Regions from separate parts of the Homo sapiens genome. Here regions 2, 3 and 4 are each reported to be linked to region 1. The links are microRNA targets in miRTarBase. Many come from high-throughput screens and were not tested one by one. Region 1 holds a microRNA gene; each other region holds the end of a gene's coding sequence. Distances are from middle to middle.

Evidence for each region. The annotated mature microRNA hsa-miR-877-3p reads UCCUCUUCUCCCUCCUCCCAG and lies in region 1 at 1,708-1,728, opposite strand. An mRNA with a match to its seed (bases 2 to 7 or 8) in the 3' UTR can be bound and repressed. Matches are read on the target gene's strand: a 7mer-m8 pairs with bases 2 to 8, a 7mer-A1 pairs with bases 2 to 7 and ends in A, and an 8mer does both.
Region 2: miRTarBase lists UQCRC1 as a target of hsa-miR-877-3p. The part of its 3' UTR that is shown has no 7-base or 8-base seed match.
Region 3: miRTarBase lists MDC1 as a target of hsa-miR-877-3p. The part of its 3' UTR that is shown has no 7-base or 8-base seed match.
Region 4: the mRNA of REEP2 is a reported target of hsa-miR-877-3p. Seed matches in the 3' UTR shown: 7mer-A1 at 789-795 and 7mer-m8 at 1,769-1,775.

Annotation. Positions count from the first base shown.
Region 1 is chr6:30,582,770-30,586,124 of GRCh38, reverse strand. MIR877 (microRNA 877) reads right to left here and starts at 1,793; the gene lies at 1,708-1,793. It overlaps ABCF1 (ATP binding cassette subfamily F member 1), which reads right to left. Exons shown (of 25, transcript NM_001025091.2): 10 at 2,937-3,059; 11 at 2,417-2,517; 12 at 2,235-2,320; 13 at 1,794-1,933; 14 at 1,559-1,707; 15 at 782-865; 16 at 443-567; 17 at 134-246.
Region 2 is chr3:48,596,424-48,599,778 of GRCh38, reverse strand. It overlaps UQCRC1 (ubiquinol-cytochrome c reductase core protein 1), which reads left to right. Exons shown (of 13, transcript NM_003365.3): 12 at 69-144; 13 at 587-777. The coding sequence ends at 651. Among named protein-coding and RNA genes, the nearest start is that of COL7A1, 2.8 kb to the right of the region's middle.
Region 3 is chr6:30,697,937-30,701,291 of GRCh38, reverse strand. MDC1 (mediator of DNA damage checkpoint 1) reads left to right here. Exons shown (of 15, transcript NM_014641.3): 15 at 660-1,485. The coding sequence ends at 827. Among named protein-coding and RNA genes, the nearest start is that of MDC1-AS1, 3.5 kb to the left of the region's middle. RefSeq lists an enhancer at 271-772.
Region 4 is chr5:138,445,135-138,448,489 of GRCh38, forward strand. REEP2 (receptor accessory protein 2) reads left to right here. Exons shown (of 8, transcript NM_001271803.2): 6 at 94-241; 7 at 334-464; 8 at 549-1,831. The coding sequence ends at 617. Among named protein-coding and RNA genes, the nearest start is that of REEP2, 7.8 kb to the left of the region's middle.

The sequences.
Region 1 (3,355 bases):
AAGAGGAAAAAAGAGAAACCTGAGCCCTGCGCGGCAGTCCTTGAAATGTAGGCCAGCGTTCCAGAGTCTCCTTCTTCCTCCACTGCCAGGAGAGAACAGTGGCCCCCAGCCCAGAAGTCCCTCAGGTGCTCACCGCCTGCTTGGTGGACTTCCCGCCTGCCTTCAGCTCCTTCAGCTTTTTCTCTTGCTTCTCATACTGTTTCAGCAGTTCTTTCTGCTTCTGCTGGTACATCTTTTTGAAGGTCACTGGGGCAGAAGAGGGGACCAGGCATCAGTGGTTGCTCCTCTTCCCAGCAAAGGGACAACCAGGGACTGGTGGTGATGGGGTAGGCATCACTGTCTGGAATTCTGACAGGATTCAGTTTATCTAAATAGGCCCTCCCACTCAGGCCTCTTTTCGAGGTTCTATCTCTTCCCTGCATCCACACACAATCCTACTTACTGTAATTGCCCCTATAGTAGTGGAGCCGCTGGGCATCGAGGTGGATGATATCAGTGCAGACATCATCCAAGAAGCCCTGGTCATGGGAGACGATCAGCAAGGTCTTCCGCCAGCCCTGGAGGTAGCTGGGTTTCAGAGAACAGGGTGTAAGTGTCACAGTGGTCAAGTGAGAGAGAATTCAGAGGAAGCAGGCAGACAACGGGGGCTGGGAGGGAAAGGGGGGTCTGAATAGAGCTCCACTCACAGGCACAGTGGAGAAGGGCTAAAGGAAAACAGGGCAGGGAGGGAAGGGGAAGAAAGTGCAGAATGGGAACCAATGATGCAAAGGCCGTAACGCACTTATTAAGCCAGATGACAGCGTTGAGGTCCAGGTGGTTGGTGGGCTCATCCAGCATCAGCAGTGTGGGCTCCATGAACAGTGCCCTAGAGGGTGGGTAGCAGAGGGCAGGGTCAGGGAGAGAAAGATCCTTGCTCAGACAACCCCAGAGAAAACTCGGAGATAGAGCCTGAGACCATGAACACTCCTTCCCAAGCTCTCCTCAGAGAAGTTCTCGGGCAGGATACGGTTTAATTTTTTTGAGACAGGGTCTCGCCCTGTTGCCCAGGCTGTCGTGCAGTGGCACAATAAGGGCTCACTGTAGTCTAAATCTCCCAGGTCTAAGTGATACTTCTACTTCAGCCTCCAGAGTAGCTGTGACCACAGCGTGCGCCACCATATCCAGCTGATCTTTAAATTTTTTGTAGAGACAGGGTCTCCCTATGTTGCCCAGGCTAGGATATGTTTTCTTCCCCCTTTTGTGAAGATAGAGTCTCACTATATTGCCCAGGCTGGTCTCAAACTCCTGGGTTGAAGATAATCCTCCTGCCTCTGCCTTCCAAAGTGCTGGGATTACAGGCGTGACCCATTGCACCCAGCTGCAGGGTATGTTGATGAGAACTCACCACCAAGTAGGGAGATAAATAGAGAAAGACCCTAAGTTCTCACAACACAGATAGTAAGGAGGGAGAGGTAAGCCTTGAGCCTCCCTATTGGCCTTGGAAGAATGAGAAGGGAAAGAGGAAAAGGGCCCCGGTGGTCTGAGGCTGGAAGGGAGGGCAGTGAGGTGAATGGCCCACCTGGCCAGGGAGACACGCATGCGCCAGCCCCCTGAGAACTTCTGTGTGGGTCGATTCTGCATTTCAGGGTCAAAGCCCAGGCCAGCCAGGATCCGCCGTGCTTTGGCCTCTGCAGCTGCCGCCCCAGTGGCCCGCAATTCCTCATACACCTGGGAGGAGGGAGAAGAGGACACACGTCTGAGGGTCCCAGGAACCCCCAAGTCTTTGCCCGTGTCCCCTGCGCCATCTCCTCTACCTTCTCTAGCCTCTCAGCAGCTGTGTCATCCCCTTGTTCCAGCTGTCCCTGAAGCCGCCGCTCCTCTTCCAGCAGCTTCAATCGCTTGGTGTCAGCTCGAAGAACAGCCTGGACTGCTGGTGTCTCATCTGCTACCACCTCTGGGAGGCAGAGGGAGAACAGTCAGGCAGCCTCAAGAGCCAAGAGTCTCATCTTTCTTTCCCTTCAATTACATTTCTGTTTTGCCTGACCCTGCCCAGCTCTTTGTACTTGTTCCAAATAAAACACTCTCAAGTTCCTCATTGACCCTCCCCTCCTTTCCTTAGCATCCCTTTCCCGGTCTCCAGTCTCCCTCCACATCCCTTCCAACTCCATAGCCACAATTTCTTCTATTCTTGGCTGGCTGGCTTTTCTACCCAACTGCCCACCCCACCAAGCCCCTTTTCTCCCCAGTGGTCTCACCCTGCTCACACAGCAACACATCAATGTTGGGAGGGATGCTCAGGGCTCGGTTGGCAATGTGCTTGAGGAGTGTGGTCTTGCCCTTGCTGGGGAATAAAAGCTATTAGGACCTGGCCACCACTGAGAAATCTCTTCTTTTCCCTCCAGGCCCTTTTTTGCCTCCAGCTCCCTCCTCTTCTCACCCATTGGGTCCTACCAGCCCGTAGCGGCGGCCGGCTACAATGTACAGGTCTGCATTGACGAACAGCTCCTTGCCATGAGCGGAGATGCTGAACTTCTCCAGCTGCAGCCATCAGGAAAGAGGTGGCAGAGGGAAGGGATGATCACATGAAAATTCTCCCTTTGGGACAGGAGCGGCCACTTTCTCCCTGCAGGGAAGCCTCTGACAAACCGCTACCTCCAGCATAATCCCCTTCCTCTCCCCACAGCCGGTCCCCGCCCTGTTCGCTGCCTGTAATGGGAGCCCCATGCATCCTCAGCTAGTCTAGTCTGTCCCACACTATTTTCTGCCAAGGGTGGACCCCACTTCTACTGGTTTTTCTATCTTCTTGCTCAAGTTGGCAGAACCTAAGGTGTGGAAAATGCCTCCAATCTTTCTTCCCACTGAACTAACCCATTCACACACCACAGCCACTCAGGGAAGATGAGAGAACTGGCTCTTCCCTAGGTAAGTGGACTGGAAGGGGCCCCTTGAGACCTTACCTTGATGTCAGATGCATTTTCTAACATGGCTTGGCGGGAGGACATCTCCGCCTGGGACACGGAGAAGTCATTTTCAGCTGCATTGGCTGCTTTTAATGAAGCCACTTGGCGCTCATACTCCATCTGAGAAGGTAGGAAAAACTACATTTGAAGCCACAGTCTACCAGTTTCCCATCACCATGAAACAGCCCATGCTGGCTGGGCATGCTGGCTCACGCCTGTAATCCCAGCACTCTGGGAGGCTGAGGTAGGTGGATCTCTTGAGCTCAGGAGTTTGAGACCAGCCTGGCCAACATGCTAAAATACTGTCTCTACAAAAAATACAAAAATTAGCCAGGCATGGTGGTGCCACCCATAGTCTCAGCTATTCGGGAGGCTGAGGTGGGAGGATCACTTGAGCCTGGTAGGTTGAGGCTGCA
Region 2 (3,355 bases), not on the chromosome of region 1:
TGATGCTGACTGGCTGAGGTGGTGGCCAGGTGCCCGTTAGCCAGTATGCCCTCTGCCTCACCCTGCAGGAGGTGGATGCCAGTGTGGTACGTGAGATCTGCTCCAAGTACATCTATGACCAGTGCCCAGCAGTGGCTGGATATGGTAAGTGGCCTAGGGGGTCTGCTCTTTGTTTATTTCCTCAGGCCGTTCTCTTGGCCTCCCCTTCCACCTCTGCTCCCGCACTGCTGCTCAGCTTACAGAGCAGCCAGTTAAGGCCCCAAGCAGCTCTCCCCAGTCCCCTGGCTGCCAGGGAGTTCTTGCTCAGAAAACCTGTCCCAGCAGTTCCTTGACTGCCTGCCAAGGTGCCTTCATCAATACCCTGCACCCGTCAGGTAACGGGCACCTCCATGTGGGGTGGGGCTTCAAGGGCCAGAACATGAAGGGACAGGCTCAGCACCCCTGGGGGAATGTTCTCTCCTCTCTTTCCACTCAAAGCCTGTCTTGTGCTGCTCTGGGCAGCATCTCCGAGCTGGGTGCGGCACAGGGCCAGGTGTCCCTGTGCAGGCCAGGTACCCCACCCTGACGCTCCACCCTATCCCCACAGGCCCCATTGAGCAGCTCCCAGACTACAACCGGATCCGTAGCGGCATGTTCTGGCTGCGCTTCTAGGCGGGAAGCCTATGTAAGCAAGAGGGCAGGGCCGGGGTTTGTGGTCCCCCCCCCACCACAAACACAGCACTTCGGCTCCTCTAACCTGTGCCACAGGTGACCACCAATAAAATCCTCTGCTGAGAAGTGTGTCATCCCTCTTTTGGCATTGGCATGGAGTCCATGGGGCAGTAGATGGGGAGCAAGGACTTCCCTCTAGTTCTGTGGCTCCTGGATCCTCCTGCCTTCCCACAGGCTGATGTGTCCTCAGCCAGGGGCAAGCGTGGGGGTTGCAGCTGAGGCCGGAAGTCTTTGATGCCTACAGGGAGCTGAGCCCAGATGTTTCCACTCAGCCACTTAGGGGAGTTCCTCAGCCAGCTGGTCCCAAGATTGGGCTGTGGGAGTCCATAGGAAGTGTAAACCCAGCCTTTGCCCCTGTAGGAGTCCCAGCCTGGAATCCCTGCAGGCTCAGGTGGGAAACCCCTCACTGTGGACCTTGTGCCAAGTCACCCCCTGGTGGTCCCTGGTGGACCAGAAGGGGCCAAGGGGTGTCTCCAAGGATGCCTCTTGTGTGTGTTTACTCTGCATTCTGGGAGGAGGATAGCCTGGGGCATAGTGTTCTCATTTGGTTTCTAACTGCTGCCTGGACAAGCAGGGCAGGAATCCTTTGCCTCCGCTGACTCAGGCTCCAAGAATAGCCCTGAGCTCAGTGGGGCCCGAGCCCCCTCCCTCTACTACATTTGTCCCAGGCAAGTCCAGAGCTGCTGGCCTGACAATCCCCTCCCCATTTTCCTGAGGCAGCCAGGACCTGGTACAGCTCTTAGCTACCTAGTCCCTCTGTTATCTCTTTTGGCTCTGGTCCCCATGGTGGGTGCGCAGGTAGGCTGCTCCTCCTGCACCCCCCAGTGCTTCCACAGTCAGGTTCTCTGGGATCCCAGGGGGAAGTTGAAAGCGAGGGGCCCAATTTTCCTTTGAGGAAGTCGCTGCCTGGCAGTCACAAGCAGGGTGCTGGGACAAGGTCTTTTAGAAGATGGCTGTTCAGAAGTCCCCCCAGCATCGTAGCTTGGAAGTAGCCCAAGGAACCCTTGTATCACTATCACCCTGCCCCACTGCCTTTCCCTCACCATTGGTTGCCATACGTTGCCAATTCGGAGACATTTGTTAAGCACCTTCTACGGCCCGGGACTGGGGCATTGCGCAGATCATTCTACTTTGTGAACGGCTGGAGAGAAGATGCTGGGCAGCGCAGAACCCTGACAGGCCCAACCCTGGGTGCTCATGGAGGTGCAACACCCAGGCAGGGGAACAAGTGCCAAGTCTGTTGTCAAGTTTGAGCTCCTGGAGGATGGGGCTTCATTTCTAAGCCCAGCCTGGCCCTTAGAGGCTACAGGTGTGCTGGACACGAGAGCTTGAGTTGCTGGGAGTGGTCTGGTTCTAAGGGACCTTGCGTACCAAGCCAGGGACTCTGGTCTTTACCCTGGAGCCATGCTGGGGAGGTGTGTTGGAGGTTACTGTGAAGAGAAGTGACTTGGTCAGAGTTGAGATTCAGCATGGGGACTCTCAGGCCATATTTCTGTATCAGTCTTGGTGAGCTGTGCTGTGGCAGAACAGAGGTCATGGCCACACGAACTGGAGCCAGCTGTAGGGGACACAAAGAGGACTACATTCCCAGCAGGGCTGGGAGACGCGGAGGCACGAGTGGGTTGGAGGAGGGTAATCTTCCATAGTCCAGTGAGGAGTTTGGTGGTGTCCAGGGTACAGTGGGATGTGTGGGGCTGGGACCTGATAAAGAGGCCCTGGTTGGAAACAGATGGGGTGAGGTAGTGACTGAGGCCAGGGAAGGAAATGTTCAGGGAAAGCTTGGGAGGGAGAAGGATGTGCTCTGGGGGCTCCACCGCCCTGATGGGGTTGCAGGTAGGCACTGGCCTCGGGCTGTGCCCTAGGCTGTGTTCCTCCCAGGAGGCCAGAGCTGGGGCTTCAGAGGGCCACACTCCTGCTCGTGAGTCTCATAGAAGCTCCAGACGTGGAGTCATTCCAACCTTACTCCTACCTTCTCAACAGCCTCTCCCAGCACCCTTTGAGAGACCCTCTCACAGCAGCCTGTCCTTTCTTTTGGAGGCACCTCAATTCTGATGAGGTTTGCCTGAGCACCCACCCTCCCAGCTGGGCCTCCTGTCTCCCCTAAGACTGGCCCACGTGTGCACATATGTCTGTACCGTACTGTCCATGCCACTGGCCTGCTCTTGCCCGCCCTGGCTGCACGGGAGGAGGTGACAGTCTTAGGGGGAAGGGGCTGCCTGTGTGATAACATACCTGGTTCTCTGCAGCCCCCCACCTGGAGCACACCTTGCAGGGATGGGGGGTCCTGGGACATGGCTGAGGAGACCCTGACCTTGGAATAAGGTCATAGCACTATGCCCCAGGATAGTTTGGGGGGTCAGTAATAAGGGATAGAGCCCCAGCCTTCCTTGGGCAATAGGAAAGCAGGCAGCATGGATGGTCTTCACTGCCTCCAGCTCTGGCCACACCAGAGTCCTCGGGCTGTGGAGGAGTCCAGCCAGTGCTGTCCCCATATCTCCCTGTGGATCCCAGGGGAGGCTGTGGGGCCGGGCATATTAGAAGGGGCCCAGCAGCCTTGGTGAGTATAGATGTGCTTTCTGGGCTGCCCAGAGTTATTCAGGATTAGCAGGAAAAAAAGGGGGAGCAGGACCCAGATGGGGGCCTG
Region 3 (3,355 bases), 120 kb from region 1:
GTAGCTGGGACTACAGGCGCACACCACCACGCCCAGCTAATTTTTTTATTTTTACTAAAGACGGGGTTTCACCATGTTGGCCAGGATGGTCTCGATCTCTTGACCTCGTGATCCACCCACCTCGGCCTCCCAAAGTGCTGGGATTATAGGCGTGAGCCACTGTGCCTGGCCTCTAGCAAGAGTATTTCTTTTTTTTTTTTCTTTTTTTTTTTCTTTTGAGATGGAGTCTTGCTCTGTAGCCCAGGCTGGAGTGCAGTGGCGCGATCTCGGCTCACTGCAAGCTCCGCCTCCTGGGTTTTCACGCCATTCTCCTGCCCCAGCCTCCCGAGTAGCTGGGACGACAGGCACCCGTCAGCGCGCCCGGCTAATTTTTTTTTTTTTTTTTTTTTGTATTTTTAGTAGAGACAGGGTTTCACCGTGGTCTTGATCTCCTGACCTCGTGATCCACCCGCCTCAGCCTCCCAAAGTGCTGTGTAATTACAGGCATGAGCCACTGCGCCCGGCCTAGCAAGAGTATTTCATAGACAGTATGCGGTGTGCTTCACTTGGCTTCATATTAGGAGGTATTATTTTAGTGATGGTAAGACTGGTTAGTGGGTCCTGAACCCATTTCTAGGATTCTTTTTCACCTGATTTTGCCTTTGCTCTGTCTTCCCCAGCCTCAGAGAGTTGTGATCACATGCCCTCAGGACTTCCCTCATTGCTCCATTCCACTACGGGTTGGGCTGCCCCTCCTCTCGCCTGAGTTCCTGCTGACTGGAGTGCTGAAGCAGGAAGCCAAGCCAGAGGCCTTTGTCCTCTCCCCTTTGGAGATGTCATCCACCTGAGAACTCCACTACCCTTTTCCCTCCCAGACCACGAATTAGAAGATATGTGGAAGAAAGAACTCAGGGCGTTAGAAAGGATTGGGGTATATTGATACAACTTGTCCTGGAACATGGGTGGGACCAGAAATCTTTATGAATAAATGAAAAGATAAGGGATTTGGAAGCCACAGGTTGTTTTTTGTTTGTTTGTTTGTTTTTTTAATGGCCATTTTATTTTATTTGTATTTATAGTTTTTTATTTGTATAGATTTAGGGGATACAAGATTTCTTACATGCATGTATTAAATGGCCATTTTAAAATTAGCTAGTTTCATGCTCAGATGTCATAAGTGGCAGCTATCTTTAGCCAGACTGTTGCAGTTATTGCTCGATGCCACTCATGGTGTCCTACCTCCTATTTGGAAACCATCTCTATTTTTTTCTTACTGAGATTCTTACTTTGGGGTCAGGAACTTGAAGGGATGCTTGGAGTGAGTAGATTTGAGGGTCCAGTTATGGAGTGCTACTAAAACATTTTCTTCTCTCCTGGCCTCTGGAAGCATCTTTAGCTTTGACTTTGGGCAAGTCTCTGTACTTTTCTGGCCAGCTTTTCCAGGATTTATAAAATTAGAGCTTCGGCTTGACCTCTGTGATAAATAAATATTCACTCTGTGCCTTATGGTGTAGTGTAGTTTTTTAAAATGTCTAGGTCTCAAGACACAAACTTAAAAAAAAAAAAGTCATAGACTTGTATTTAATTCATCATTATCTTCTATTTAGGACAATTTGTATGACATTTCTTAAGATTTTTTTTTTTTTCTTGAGACAGGGTCTCATCTCTGTCACCTAGGCTGGAGTGCAGTGGCACCATCTTGGCTCACTGCAACCTCCACCTCCCAGTTCAAGCAATAGTCCCACCTCAGCCTCCTGAGTAGCTAGGACTGCAGGCACACACCACCATGCCTGGCTAATTTTCTTTTTTTTATTGTTTAGTAGAGACGGGGCTCTACTAAATTTTTGTATTTTTGGTAGAGATGAGGTTTTGTCATGTTGCCCAGGCTGGTCTCTAACTTCTGACCTCAAGTGATCCACCCACCTCAGCCTCCCGAGTAGCTGGGATTACAGGCACATGCCACCACACCCGGCTAATTTTTGTATTTGTAGTAGAGACGGGGTTTCACCATGTTGGCCATGCTGGTCTCGAACTCCTGACCTCAGGTGATCCACCTGTCTTGACTTCCCAAAGTGCTGGGATAACAGGCATGAGCCGCCATGACTGGCCTTTTATCTTTTTGAGTCAAGGTGTCACTCTGTTGCCCAGGCTGAAGTGCAGTGGCTCGATGTCGGCTTACTGCAGCCTTGACCTCCTGGGCTCAAACGATTTTCCTCTCAGCCTCCCAAGTAGCTGGGACCATAGGTGTGTGCAACCATGCCCGATGAATTTTGTATTTTTGGTAGAGACGAGGTTTTGTCATGTTGCCCAAGCTGGTCTCTAACTCGTGACCTCAAGTGAGCCACCCACCTCAGCCTCCAAAAGTGCTGGGATTACAGGCTTGAGCCACCGTGCCCAGCCAGATTTAAATTTTAAAAGTTGGTTGATTACAAGGATGTGGAGAAATTAGAATCCTTATACATTGCTGGTAGGAATGTTAAATGGTTCAGCCTCTGTGGTAAACAGTTTGATGGTTCCTCAAAAAGTTAAACATATGGATGGGCACAGTGGCTCACACATGTAATCCCAGCACTTTGGAGGCCAAGGCTGGCAGATCACTTGAGCTCAGAAGTTCACGGCCAGCCGGGCAACATGACAAAACCTCGTCTCTACCAAAAATACAAAAATTCACTGGGCATGGTGGCACACACCTATGGTCCCAGCTACTTGGGAGGCTAAGAGGAAAATCGTTTGAGCCCAGGAGGTCAAGGCTGCAGTGGGTGGACACGAGCCACTGCACTTCAGCCTGGGCAACAGAGTGAGACCTTGTCTCAAAAAAATAAAAGGCCAGTCACGGCAGCTCATGCCTGTAATCCCAGCACTTTGGGAAGTCAAGACAGGTGGATCACCTGAGGTCAGGAGTTAGAGACCAGCCTGGCCAACATGGTGAAATCCCGTCTCTACTTAAAATACAAAAATTAGCCGGGCGTGGTGGCATGTGCCTGCAATCCCAGCTACTTGGGAGGCTGAGGCAGAAGAATTGCTGGAACCCGGGAAGTGGAGGTTGCAGTGAGCTGAGATCGTGCCACTGCACTCCAGCCTGGGCAACAGAACAAGACTCCATCTAAAAAAAAAAAGGCCAGGCGTGGTGGCTCACCCCTGTAATCCTAGCACTTTGGGAGGCCAAGGTGGGCAGATCACAAGATCAGGAGATTGAGACCATCCTGGCTAACATGGAGAAACCCCGTCTCTACTAAAAATACAAAAAATTAGCTAGGCGTGGTGGCAGGCGCCTGTAGTCCTAGCTACTCGGGAGGCTGAGGCAGGAGAATCGCTTGAACCCGGGAGGTGGAGGTTGCAGTGAGCCAAGACTGCTCCACTGTACTCCAGCCTGGCG
Region 4 (3,355 bases), not on the chromosome of region 1:
ACCGAGCCTGGGGCTGCTGCCAGCACCATGGTGACCTCTATCTCCACCCCGCCCCTTCCCCCCGGCTCTCCCGGTGCGTGGTGGTGACCCTAGGGCCAGGGGGTGCTGTCAGAGAAGCTCCGCAGCTTCAGCATGCAGGACCTGACCCTGATCCGGGACGAGGACGCACTGCCCCTGCAGAGGCCTGACGGCCGCCTCCGACCCAGCCCTGGCAGCCTCCTGGACACCATCGAGGACTTAGGTACAGGCAGGGCCCGGGGTTGGGGTGGGGCCCCAAGGGCAAGGAGTCCAGATGGGAAAGATTCCCCCACCTCCTTTTCTCCCTGCACCCAGGAGATGACCCTGCCCTGAGTCTAAGGTCCAGCACAAACCCGGCAGATTCCCGGACAGAGGCTTCTGAGGATGACATGGGAGACAAAGCTCCCAAGAGGGCCAAACCCATCAAAAAAGCGCCCAAAGCTGAGGTGAGGGCACTGGCCAGAGCTTGGGGAAACAGGCAGGGGGTGGCGGCTCCAGGCTGAGCCCCATCTTCCTCCTTCTTTCCACAGCCACTGGCTTCCAAGACACTGAAGACCCGGCCCAAGAAGAAGACCTCTGGCGGGGGCGACTCAGCTTGAGCCCCTCCACCCCCGCAGGCTGCAGAGCAAGGATGAAGCCTCAGGAGGGGCCTCAGACCCAGCCCCTGCTCCACACTGTGCCAGTAGCCTAGGTGTCTCAGGCCCCTGGGCCCCGCAGATGGCCATTTCCGGTGCCTGCCCAGTGGCCACTCTTCTGGAAGGGGCTTGGAAAAGAGGAAGGAGGCCCAGCTGTGGGGGTTGAGGGTAGAGGGTGGACCAGAGGCTGAGGACTGAGCCACCCAAGGAGGTGGGGACTGCTCGGCCTCCACCGCTGTTCCGCTGCAGCCCCGCCCTGCCCCACCCACCCAGTGCCTTGCTGAAGCCCATAGCAATCCGCTTCTCAGAGGTCCTGTCGTGTTTCCACTGCTCGCCTTGGTTTGGGAGCAGGGAGGGGGAAGTCCTAGCCCAGATGGACCAAGGACGGGCCTGAAGGCACATGGGGGAAAGGGAGCACACGGGGAGGACGTTGGGGACCCTGGGTGGGGCCTCCAGGTGCAGCTGTGGATGGAAGACAGGGATTGGCCTGTGCTTCAGCGACCAGGATGGCCAGGCCAGAGCTGCAGCTGGGGGCTCTTTTCCTGGTCATTGGGTGGGGCTGAGTGCCACATGTTCCCACATTAAAAAGGGGGGTCCAGGGCTGTGTGAGTGTGTCTTTCTGGGTCTAGGGCTCGGGGTAGTTTGGGTCAAGGACTGTCCCTCCAGCAGTCGCCTCCTCCCACCCTGAGCCCCACAGTCATCTGGCCCTTTCCCTGCTCAACCCTCCATCCTAGGCTCTGAGCCTCAGAGGACCCAGCCCATGAGAGAACGGGGATCTGGGGGGCCTCTCACCTGCTCCTATGACCTTGCTCCCTTTTAGGTCACCCCATTGCCACCGTGCCCCTGGGCTGGACTCCCGTGCTCCTCAGGGCCCACCCCTGCTCTGTCTGGTACAGGCCCCTGCTGAGTGGGCCCCTCTCCTCTGCCCCTGGGGTCCATCCCCTCTTGCCCAGGGTCCCCATCCTGTACCAAGCAGACTGGGCCCTAAGACCCCTGGCAGAACCCAGCCTCTGCTCACACCCGCCCCAGCTTCTGCCACGGCTTCAGTCAGGGCCAGGAGGAACACGTGAAGGAGAAAGAGAAATGCAGGAGCCGCGGGGCTCCCGGTTCCTTGGGAAGAGGGTGCCCATTGGACCTTTGGCACTGGATGAGCCAATAAACCAAACTCTGGCACCTCATTTATTTTGGCCTCTGTGCTTTGTTCTTGCCACACCAGCTGACAGGTGGGAAGGACCTCAAGTGAGAAGCAGGGTTCAGCTGGGGGAGTGGGGAGGCCAGCCTGTGACTGACAGGAGCTCTGGTGCCCAGCTAAGAGATGGGCTTGAGGGGGCTCAGTCTGGGAAAATGGTTTTGGGACTCAAGATAAAACCAGAGGCCTAGGCTGGGCGCAGTGGCTCATGCCTGTAATCCCAGCACTTTGGGAGGCCGAGGCGGGCAGATCACGAGGTCAGGAGATCAAGACCATCCTGGCCAACATGGTGAAACCCCATCTCTACTAAAAATACAAAAATTAACCAGGCATGGTGGCGCGTGCCTGTAGTCCCAGCTACTTGGGAGGCTGAGGCAGGGGAATTGCTTGAACGTGGGAGGCAGAGATTGCAGTGAGCCAAGATCGTGCCACTGCACTCCAGCCTGGTGACAGAATAAGACTCCGTCTCAAACAAAACAAAAAACAAACAAAAACCACAGAGGCTTAGCTGGGTGTGGTGGCTCACACCTGTAATCCCAGCACTTTGGGAGGTGGAGGCAGGAGGATCCTTGAACTCAGGATTTTGAGACCAGCCTGGGCAACATGCGAAAATCACATCTGTATTTTTTTTTAGGGGGGGAAACTGAGTATTGCCAAGGCTGGAGTGCAGTGGCGCGATCTTGGCTCACGGCAACCTCTGCCTACTGGGTTCAAATGATTCTCATGCCTCAGCCTCCCAAGTAGCTGGAATTACAGTCATGCGCCACCATGCCCAGCTAATTTTTGTATTTTTAGTAGAGACTGGGTTTCACCATGTTGGCCAGGCTGGTCTCGAACTCCTGACCTCAAGTGATCTGCCCGCCTCGGCCTCCCAAAGTGCTGGGATTACAGGCGTGAGACACCGCGCCCAGCCATGTCTCTATTTAAAAAATAATAATAATAAATAAAAACCAGAGGCCTAAGAAGGGCCAGGGGCCCCAACCCCAAGGACTGTCTTTTCCCTCAGAATCTTACCCCAAGTCTTGAGTGGACCTTCTGGTATCCAACAGAAAGTGCTAGGTGTAGGCTCTGGGGGACAAAGATCCCAGTGAGGCCCCCAGGGGACAGAGGATAGGATATGGAGCTGTGGGGCAGGCCTCGGGGACTGTGCCTAGAAAGACCAAAGGGGGTTGAGCCAGAGAGGTTGAGCGAAGAAGCAGAGATGGGGAAGACAGGACAAGGGCTTGTGAAGAAACCAGCCCTGGGGACAGAGAGGGAACCAAGGGCTGAGACAAAGAGGCACAGCCTGTGTGGCACCAGGAAAGGCAGAGGTCCAGCCCTGACTACTGGGCTAGGTTGGAGGAAAGGAGGAGAAGGGAGCTGCAGGGCATGGGGTCCGAGCCCTGGGACGCAGAGCCAGAGCTCCAGGGGCCAAGAAGCACAACTGACTGGGGATGAGCCCCCGGGAAGCCGGAACCCAGGGGGAGGGAAAGGCTGGCAGAGGAGCAGAGGCAGGTACGGAGGAGAGACTAAG